2 linked regions of the Homo sapiens genome follow. The protein of the gene in region 1 purifies or fractionates together with the protein of each later gene. This does not show direct contact. Each region holds a gene or a part of one and is shown on either strand. Other genes may lie near its edges.

Region 1 (5,161 bases):
CTCCAAAGGCCCACTAGTAAAGGAGCAGAAGCACAATGAGGGGACATTTAAAACAACAGTCAGGGGGCTAGCGCCCACAGCCAGCTACAGGACAAAAAATAACAGCTCAACTCATGCTTTGGAAAAGCGAAATGTTATTTACAAAAAAATGTCTATCATACACAGTTAGTTTCCCTTGCTAAGATAAAAAAGAGTGCATCCAATATTAGTATTATAAATTCTAAGTAATTAGATCCATTGGAAGTAATAGTTTACTGTTGATTACAAGCTACGTATTATGAATTATGTCCAAGATTCTTCTAATATGAGAATTTGTAACTTTAAATATTATAGCTAGTCTGCATAATTGAGAAGTGGAAAATGAACAGAATTTTAGTTTAATTAAAGGGAAGAGCATCCTAAGTGAAATACGCAAATGAGGGGAAATATAAGAAGTCATGGATTTTTACTGTATTTAAAGTTTTAAATTAAAGGATTAAAAAAACTTCCAACCTTGCTTGAGTAAGCAATCAGGTTTATTTAAAATCAGCAGGTAAACTACAGAAAGGAACAGGAATAGTAAACAGTGGCAACAGTGTCCATTCATGGTCCGTTCGGGGCTCTCCATTTTGGCCAATTCCTGGCTGTACTTGGCTCCTGGAGAGCGTGCAGGGGGCGGGGGGCAGGCAACGTCTCTACACAGAGCTGCTGCCACATGGCTGGGAAGGACTCAGATCCGGTACATCCACTGATCTGCCGCCAAGTGTGAACCCTGAGGTCAGAACAACTGAACTTGGATGAGGAGGGGGATACCTGTGTACTGTAGTATCAGGTTTATGAGTACCTACAAATTCAAATCATTTTGCATCCTTCAATACATTTAATTTCCTCAATAAACCTGTGAGAATCATTGGTAGCTCAATTTTACAGGTGAGAAAACTGAGGCTCAGAGAAATAGCTTGCCCCAAAATACATATTTTAATGAGTAAAAGAGAAAAAAGTGAAAAAAAGAAAAGGAAAAAAGAGAAATACCAAACGCAAGTCAAATACAAGTCTGTTTGTAAAATCTAAACATGTTGCATTAAATTTTAGGTTATTATTTTTCAATAACAACAAAATCCCAAAATACTTTGTAAAATACACAGATTTTTTTAAAAGCCTTATAATAGTGAACAATAGCTACATTTCCCCCCAGAATCTATGCAAACAAGAAAACAATGAAATGACATATTTTAAAATATTTTAGGGCCAGGCACGGTGGCTCACACCTGTAATCCCAGCACTTTGGGAGGATTATCTGAGGTCAGGAGTTCAAGATCAGCCATGACCAACATAGAGAAACCCCATCTCTACTAAAAATACAAAATTATCTGGGCATGGTGGCGCATGCCTGTAATCCCAGCTACTCGGGAGGCTGAAGCAGGAGAATCGCTTAAACCCGGGAGGCGGAGGTTGCGGTGAGCCGAGATCGCGCCACTGCACTCCAGCCTGGGCAACAAAGCGAGACTCTGTCTCAAAGAAAGAAAAAAAAATTAAAAACTGTCATGGAAAGTTCTATATAGAGCCAAAATATACTTCAACAATGAAGATAAATACAGAGTTTTTCAGACAAATAAAAGCAGAGAGACTATGTTTCCAGCAGACCTGTAAGATGTATGAAAGCAGTTCTTCATGTGGAAAGAAAATATACCACATGGAAATCTGAGTCAACACAAAGAATACAGAGTGCTGAAAATATATTAGTAACAACTGAACATATTCTCTTATGTTAAAATTTCCTTGACAGACTATTTAAAGCAAAAACAGCTAACAATATATCGTGGGGTTTATAATATACAGAGAAGTAAAAGGTATGCCCACAACCAGTTTGAAGACTGGAAGGGGATGAATGGAAACACTATATTAAACATGAAATGATATAATATTTTTGGAAAATAGAAGGTTTACACTATAAAGCCTAGAGTAGGTTTTTTAACCTCAGCACTACTGATATTGTGGGCTGGAGGATTCTTTGCTGTGAGAAGCTGTCCTGTGCATTGTAGGATGTTTAGCATTCTCCCTGGGCTCTACCCACTAGATGATAGTAGCACATCCTCCAAGCTGTGACAACCCAAAATGCCTCCGGACATAGCCAAATGTCCCTTGGCACAGACAAATGTCCTTAGCCAGAGCAAAACTGTCCCAGTTAAGAACCACTGTGTTAGACTGAACAACAACAAAAAATTTAAAATATCAGAAATAAAGGAGGGAACACCATCCTTTAAGACATCAAAAAATATTATGAACAATCCAATTTTATGCCAATAAATTCAGCAACTTAAATGAAATAAACAAATTTCTTAAAATACAAATTACCAAAACAGACACAGGAGTAAACAGAACATCTATATAGCCCTACATCTATTAAAGATACTGAATTCACAATTCAAAACCTTTCCACAAAGAAAACTCAACACTGTTTGGTGAATTCTATCAAACTTGAAAGAAAATATAAATCTGTATTAGTTTTCTAGGGCTACCATAATAACATACCACAAACGAGTAGTTTAAACAACAGAAATTTATTGTCCCACTGCTCTGATAGCTAGAAGTCCAAATCAATGTGTCAGCGTGGCTGTGCTTCCCCGGAAACCTGTAGGGGGAATCTTTCCTTGCCTATTCCCAGCTTCCTGTGGTTGCCGGAAGCCCCTGGTGTGTCTTGGTTTGCAGCTGCAGCCCTGCAGTCCCTGCCTCTATCTTCACGTGACATTTTCTCCTCATGTGTGTGTCTCTTTTCTTAGGGTGGATTAGAGCTCATACTCATTGAGTATGACCTCATCTTAACGTTACATCTGCAATGACCCTATTTCCAAATAAGGTCACATTCTGAGGTACTGGGGGTTAGGGCTTCAACCATTTTTTTTTTTTTTTTGGTGGAGACGCAGGACACAATTCAACCCATTACACACCCAACCCTACGTAAACTTTCAGAACACAGAGGAAGGAATATATCTCATTCACTTTGACAGCAGCATTACCCTAAATACCAAAAACAGGTGGTCAGCCTTTTGGAACCTATTATCTTTTTCATTAACAGTGATCATTAACATGGAGCAAAGTCCAGCCTTGAAGTCTATGCTCTGGGAGGAGGGGGCAGGCGACAGATGGAGAAGCGTGTATAGTTTCAAAATCTCCACAGAGTCTTGGAGGCTACTGAAATTTCCCTTACACCTACTGGGACATTCTATTCTGCTTAAAAATGGAAAAATGATTTCAAATTAATAAAAGTTAAAGGATGGTGCCTGCTCACAACTAGTTATTTGCCTATCTTTAAAACCTTACTGTATATGAAACTTTTTTCTGAGAAGCAACAAGATCTACATGAAATCTTAATACTGACAGTCATTAGTAAATGCAATGCTTTATTTTTAAAATCGTGTCCAATTTCCATAGAGAAGGTAGTTCCCTGCACAGATGGAACAGAGCCCAAAGAAATGAAACTGGTCGGAAGGGTGCTCCCATCCCTTCCTCCAGAGATGAAATGATCCATTCAAACTAGATTTTGGAAGAAGAAACCATGGGAATTGGTGACAAGTGCATCCTGACTCTTTGTACACAGGGAATAACCCCATCCACTGACATTATAACACCTTCTGACTTTAAGGGACTTTGATATTAAAGTTGGTGGTATTTGAGATCTGGAGTTGAATGTAAGTATTACAGCAGCAATGTAGATAAGCTTTTAAAAATTACTCCCTTCCCACTGTTTTGTTCACATTACTGCCCAACATTTACCTAAGGTTTTCATATTACAACTACAACACTAAAAGACGCCATAAAAAAGAACAGTCAAGCCAAAGGGAACAATGCAGTTTCATTTCCTTAAAAACTAACAAAAGTGATTAATTACATGTTGGCAAACCAACCCTTAAAAAAATAATCAAGACAAAATGGCGCAGAGATGATTTGTGGAAAACTTGCTCTCTAAGGTCTTCCGATAACTGAACCATTTAAAATTTAGACAGACTTATTCTATAATTTCCTTCTGTTTGACGTCGGTGGAAAGGGGGCAATAAGAAGGTCATGCTGTTCTTTCCAGAGTTTTACGAAAGATTGTGGCTATCTCCATTTAAAGAACATTTAGATAATTATAATGTTATTCTATTCATCTTATTCCTCTCCCCAGAACATGTTATTTTACAGCTTCTATATATAAGATGTAAAACAGTTTTTCCACTAAAACATATATGAATGTGACTTGTCAAAAAGTATGTAAGTAAAATTCCTTTTTTCTTTTAGTGCAGCATTAACTAAAGATGGAGCTACTGAATTAAGACATTTCCAGTGATTACTTCAGGAACTTACAATGCAAGGCTCACTTCAGTAAACTATAAACTGAAAGGAAAATAATTCCATTCAATTGTAAATTATCTTATCTGACCACAGTGGAAGCATCATCAGGTGGTCCATGGCTAGGCCTTTCTGTTCATATTAGAAACCTAATATCCCTTTCTCACATAAAGACATGGCTGCAGATTACCAAAGTGCAATTAAATGAACCTGGGTTAAGTGTTTTATAAGAAGGAGAAGAATTATCTGGGGTGCTTGCTAAAAAGTCCAGTTCCTCTGTCCTATCTTAATAATTCTGAAGCCTGGATCACATTATTTTATTTAATTAATTATTTATTTGCATTTTTAGCAGAAATGGGGTTTTACCATGTTGGCCAGGCTGGTCTCGAACTCCTGGTTTCAAGTGATCCACCAGCCGTGGCCTCCCAAAGTGCTGGAATTATAGGCATGAGCCACCATGACAGGCCTGGATCACATCCCTTTAAACAAAAGTCCTTGGTGGGTCTTAAGATTGGGTAAATTTAGCAAGTAGTCCTAGATTTGTTAGCTGCAGTGATCAGACAGTAAAGACAGTTTTCATTTATTTTTATTGTAGTACAGCTGACACATAAGAAATTGCACATAAAGTATTCCACTGGATAAGTTCTGATATACATAAACACTCCTGAAACCACTGCCACAACCAAGATAAGGAGCATATCTATCACTTCCAAATGATTCTGTTTTGATCCTTTCCTTCCACCCCTCCCTACCACCAGCACTACCATCCCCAAGTACCCACTAATTTGCTTTCTGTCACTAGATAGTTGGCGTTTTCTAGAATTATATAAATAGAATTATTCAAGCTGTATAC
Region 2 (4,330 bases), on another chromosome or scaffold:
AACACTCCCCAGCCCAGGAGCCTCGGCCCACACAAACTCTCTCACGCATACACGAACACACACGTGCCCCTGCTGAACACACATCCCCGAGGCGCCCCTACCATGGCCCTGAGGTCCACGAAGGAGATGGTGGTACAGTTAAAGAGCTCTGGGGGCAGCCAGCCCTTCTCCCCGCTGCAGTGTCGGACCGCATTTCCTGGGGAAGGAGAGCAGGTGTGCAAAGCCTGAAACTCAAACTGTTGATCAATGCTTGTGTATTTCAATCCACAATCTGAATATACTTAAACCCAGAACACTGCGTGGTGGTTAGAACCCCATGGGGGCCAGGAGGTCGACACCAGCGCCCCTCTTTCATGTCAGGGCCACGGCCGAAGCTGCTCTGACACTGACAACCAGGCGTTTCGGGAGCCCAGCCAACAGGAGCCAGCACTTCCGAGCAAGTCCGTGAGGAAAGAAATCAGCAACACCATCTGCCGGCAGCCACGATCCCATGCACCAGGAATCCATTTCGGCTGGGCCTTTCCTTGCCTCACTGGATTTTCCAGACGCCCCTCACAGAGTGGACACAGTCAATGTCCCCATTTCACAGAGGTAACCCGATGCTATGAACAGTGAAGCCACTTGTCCCGGTGCCCCAGCCTGAGCGGCAGAGCAGGGACTGGCCGGGCCTGACTGGCGGGCGTCCCCACACGCGCTGCACTGTTCATGTTTCTGTTGCGCCCTCTGCCTGCTTTGTGTATTTCCTGGTAGGGAAAAGGCGATCGGATTTCTCCCCAGCACTTTGCCTGCGGATATTTTTTCAACACGAAACATTCCATGAGTCCCCACATCTCGACTGGCTCCTCCCACAAGGACGCCTGCCTCAGTTCCCTACACACAGGCCACGGCGACTCACCAACGGATCCCTTAGGGCATGGCACCGCAGCCGGCTGCCCGAACTTGGTCTGTGGCCACCAGATGCCGGCCTCAAATGCTTTGGGACAGCCATTGTAGATCACTGGGGTAGAGAAGAGAGAAGTCTGCTCAGCGGGGCACGCCACACCCACGACCACAAACAGGCACCACTGTCTGCATGCGCCTCCCTGCAGGAGGCCCTGCTCCCACCAAGAACCGAACCCTAGCATCTCCCCTGCCCCCATCCATGTCAGAGCTGGAGAGGGGTGACCAGGCTCTGACCCACACCCCCTCACGCAGAACCAGGTTTCTAGAAGGTCAAGAGAACTCAGAACACGAGGGAGCCCAGGGTCCCCCAAACACCCAGCGTGCATGCACACACGTGCACGCCAGTGCAGCAGCCTGTCCCCGCGCTGTAACCTGCAGGGTGTCGAGGGGCAACGCGGACCTTCACAGCCGAGCGTGGTGACCTCGGCAAACGGGTTGTCGCAGCGGTTGCACTGGCGGCCGATGACGCCGGGCTTGCAGGCACACTGCCCGGTGGCCATGTCGCAAGTGCGGCTGTGGGAGCCATGGGGGAAGCAGTCGCAGGGCAGACAGGTGTCCTGGGCTAGGAGCTTGTAGTAATTCTCCTGCAAAAGCCAGAGGCAGGGCCTGTGACTTCAGATGCCCGGGAGAGGCCCTACCTTGCAGCGTGTTTCCCGAGCGACGTCCAGACTCCCACCCGGGTGTGTGTGTTGGCCGCCAGCCATCCCACCCCTCATGGCTACCCTCTGCCCACATCCCACACCCAACGGGGGCTGCCTCCCAAGGCCCCACAAGGCCGGACCCAGGAGAGCAGTTCTTCCGGGAAGCACGCCCTCCCTCATGTCTTAACAAGTCTCAACAGTGGGCACCTTCGTATTTGTCCTAAAAAGAATCAGAGATCCAAATGGAGGCTTACGTATGGGGATAGCCCTTGGGCGTTTTTTTAAAGTTGTTTTGAAAAATTAGAAGCCACCTGAACGTCCACCATTGGGTGGGTCAGGGTGACAATCAAGAGCTTGTACTTCGGGTTCAGAAAGTCCTGGGTTCATGCCTGACCCTTGCCGTTTACCAGCTACATTGCCTGGGCTGGTCACCGGGACTCCCCAGGCCCAAGTAGCACCCCCTCAACCCCGCCCCGGAAAACGGGGCAGGCTGTGACCAGGCTGTGACTTGGGCAGACTCGTGAGCAACGTTCAGACCTGTGTGTCAGGTGGGGACTCCGACTGTGTGTAAAATGACAGTGAACGACAGGCCCAGAAGAGATGCTAAAACACTAACAATCACAGCTGGGAGGCGCATGGGGTGACTGCGATCTTTATGGGTTTTTATTACATTTTGTATAACTTTGTTTTTTTATTTTTTTGAGATGGGGTCTCACTGTGTTGCCCAGTCTGGAGTGCAGTGGTGCAGTCACAGCTCACTGCAGCCTCAACCTCCAGGGCTCAAGTGATCCTCCCACCTCAGCCTCCTGAGTAGCTGGGATCACAGGCAAGCATCAGCACGCTCAGCTAATGTTTTTATTTTTTGTAGAAATGGGAGTCTCACTATGTTGCCCAGGCTGGTCTTGAACTCCTGGGCTCAAGTAATCCCTCCTGCCTCGGCCTCCAGAGTAGCTGTGATTACAGGCATGAGCCACCACGCCCTGCCTATAACTTTGGATGAGAAAAAAATCGTAGGCAAGTTTTCGCCAATGCACTCCCCATGTTCTCTCTGCTCTGCCACCCACTATGCCACCACCGCCATCTGGTGACGTGTGGACCGACCCTGACCCAGGAGAGCTGTTTAATTTGAGCCTTTCAGGACACAAGTCCCATTTGCTGTTGGAACCACCGCAGGCACTGGGGGGGGACACTACTGACATCACGAGATGGCATCCAAGGGTGCCCTGGTACCAGCTTCCCTCCTAGGGCCAGCCGCATCTGCAGGAAGCTCACGTCCCTCGCCCAGGCTCCTGTTACCCTCAGACCTAACATTTGGGTTTCAAGTCACTGTGAGCGCCATGGCCGTGGTGTACACGAAGATCCTGAAGGAGGTGATGTATCCTGAGAGGGCTGGGGAGGGGTCCCTAGAGTCTGCACTGAGAACGCGTGTGCATTTCTGGAGACACGAGATGTGAGCTCCGTGCTGCATGCAGGTTAGGACTGACCGCCCTGGACAGGCGTGGGGCATAACGCACTTAGTGACACTTTCTATTTTAAAACTGCTGTCATCATGGGACACCAGCTTGGTAAAGACCAGGAAAATGGCCAGGCACGGTGGCTCACGCCTGTAATCCCAGCACTCTGGGAGGCTGAGGCGGGCGGATCACCTGAGGTCAGGAGTTCAAGACCAGCCTGGCCAACATGGTGAAATCCTGTCTCTACTAAAAATACAAAAATTAGCTGGGCATGGTGGTGGGCGCCTATAATCCCAGCTACTCAGGAGGCTGAGGCAGAAGAATTGCTGGAACCCGGGAGGCGGAGGCTGCAGTGAGCCGAGATCGCACCACTGCACTCCAGCCTGGGCGACACAGCGAGACTCTGTCTCAAAAAAAAAAAAAAAAAGACCAGGAAAATGGCCAACCAGGAGGCCAGGAGGGCCGGGGTGGTGCCATAGATGAGCCAGCCCTCAGAAACGGGTGGGCTTCCCACAGCCATGGGCAGTAGGCCGGGAGGAGGCAGGGATTCCTGTTCCACGGGCGGGGGCTGGCAGGGCTGAACCCGTAGTTTACACGTGGAAAGCAGCCATGGAGTATTCACAGAGCACGGGGGAGCAGCAAGGAAACCAAAAACCACATCTGTACACAAATGTGATGTGAGTGGGCACAGGTGTGTGTGCAGGGGTGTGAGTGTGTACCGACAGGGTATGTGAAGGCGTGTGTGTATTTAGGGGCAGCTGTGCATGTGTGTGAGCAAACACAGCATGCAGGGATCATGGGGGCGGGGCCTCACCTTGCATTGGCACTGGCCGTTGGTCTTATTACAGTCGGGATCAAAGCCTTTGCTGACGGCACAGTGGCAGGGTCCACAGACGGGGTTCCCCCACCAGCCTCTGGGGCACGGAAGGTCGAGTCTGTGGGGAAAATAAGAGGGCAGCTGGAAGGTTTATGTAACTGTGCTTTCTGGAATGAGAAGAGGCCTGCAGGCAGCATGGAGATGGTTGCCCAGGAGGCCTGGCTGGGTCCAGCTCTGGGAGCTTCCCCTTCCACGTTACATGGCCTCAGTCTCCCCTCTACCGGCTCCCAACCTCACCCCCCACCCACAGATCCACCATGCCCAAAGCGACTGGGATGACATCTCTGTCCACCGTGTGCCCCACGTCCACATGATGCCTGACTCATTGGGGCTTAATGACAATGAACCCCCACTGCAAGGCTGGCCTTTCACGATGCAGCCCCAGGCAGACTGAGCTCAGCTGCCTGGCACAACTT

The links. Proteins that work in one complex are often made in the same cells at the same time.
Region 2: the proteins of RYK (region 1) and CELSR1 purify together in Homo sapiens (affinity purification with mass spectrometry; 2 studies listed by BioGRID and IntAct, with this or other methods). This does not show direct contact.

What each region holds. Positions count from the first base shown.
Region 1 is NC_000003.12:134,159,361-134,164,521, forward strand, and holds part of RYK (tyrosine-protein kinase RYK isoform 2 precursor), read right to left. Parts: intron 14-5,161; coding exon 1-13. UniProt on the Homo sapiens protein: May be a coreceptor along with FZD8 of Wnt proteins, such as WNT1, WNT3, WNT3A and WNT5A. Involved in neuron differentiation, axon guidance, corpus callosum establishment and neurite outgrowth.
Region 2 is NC_000022.11:46,390,291-46,394,620, forward strand, and holds part of CELSR1 (cadherin EGF LAG seven-pass G-type receptor 1 isoform 1 precursor), read right to left. Parts: intron 3,973-4,330; coding exon 3,852-3,972; intron 1,527-3,851; coding exon 1,343-1,526; intron 998-1,342; coding exon 896-997; intron 786-895; coding exon of another isoform or gene 553-785; exon of another isoform or gene 238-552; intron 197-237; coding exon 102-196; intron 1-101. UniProt on the Homo sapiens protein: Receptor that may have an important role in cell/cell signaling during nervous system formation.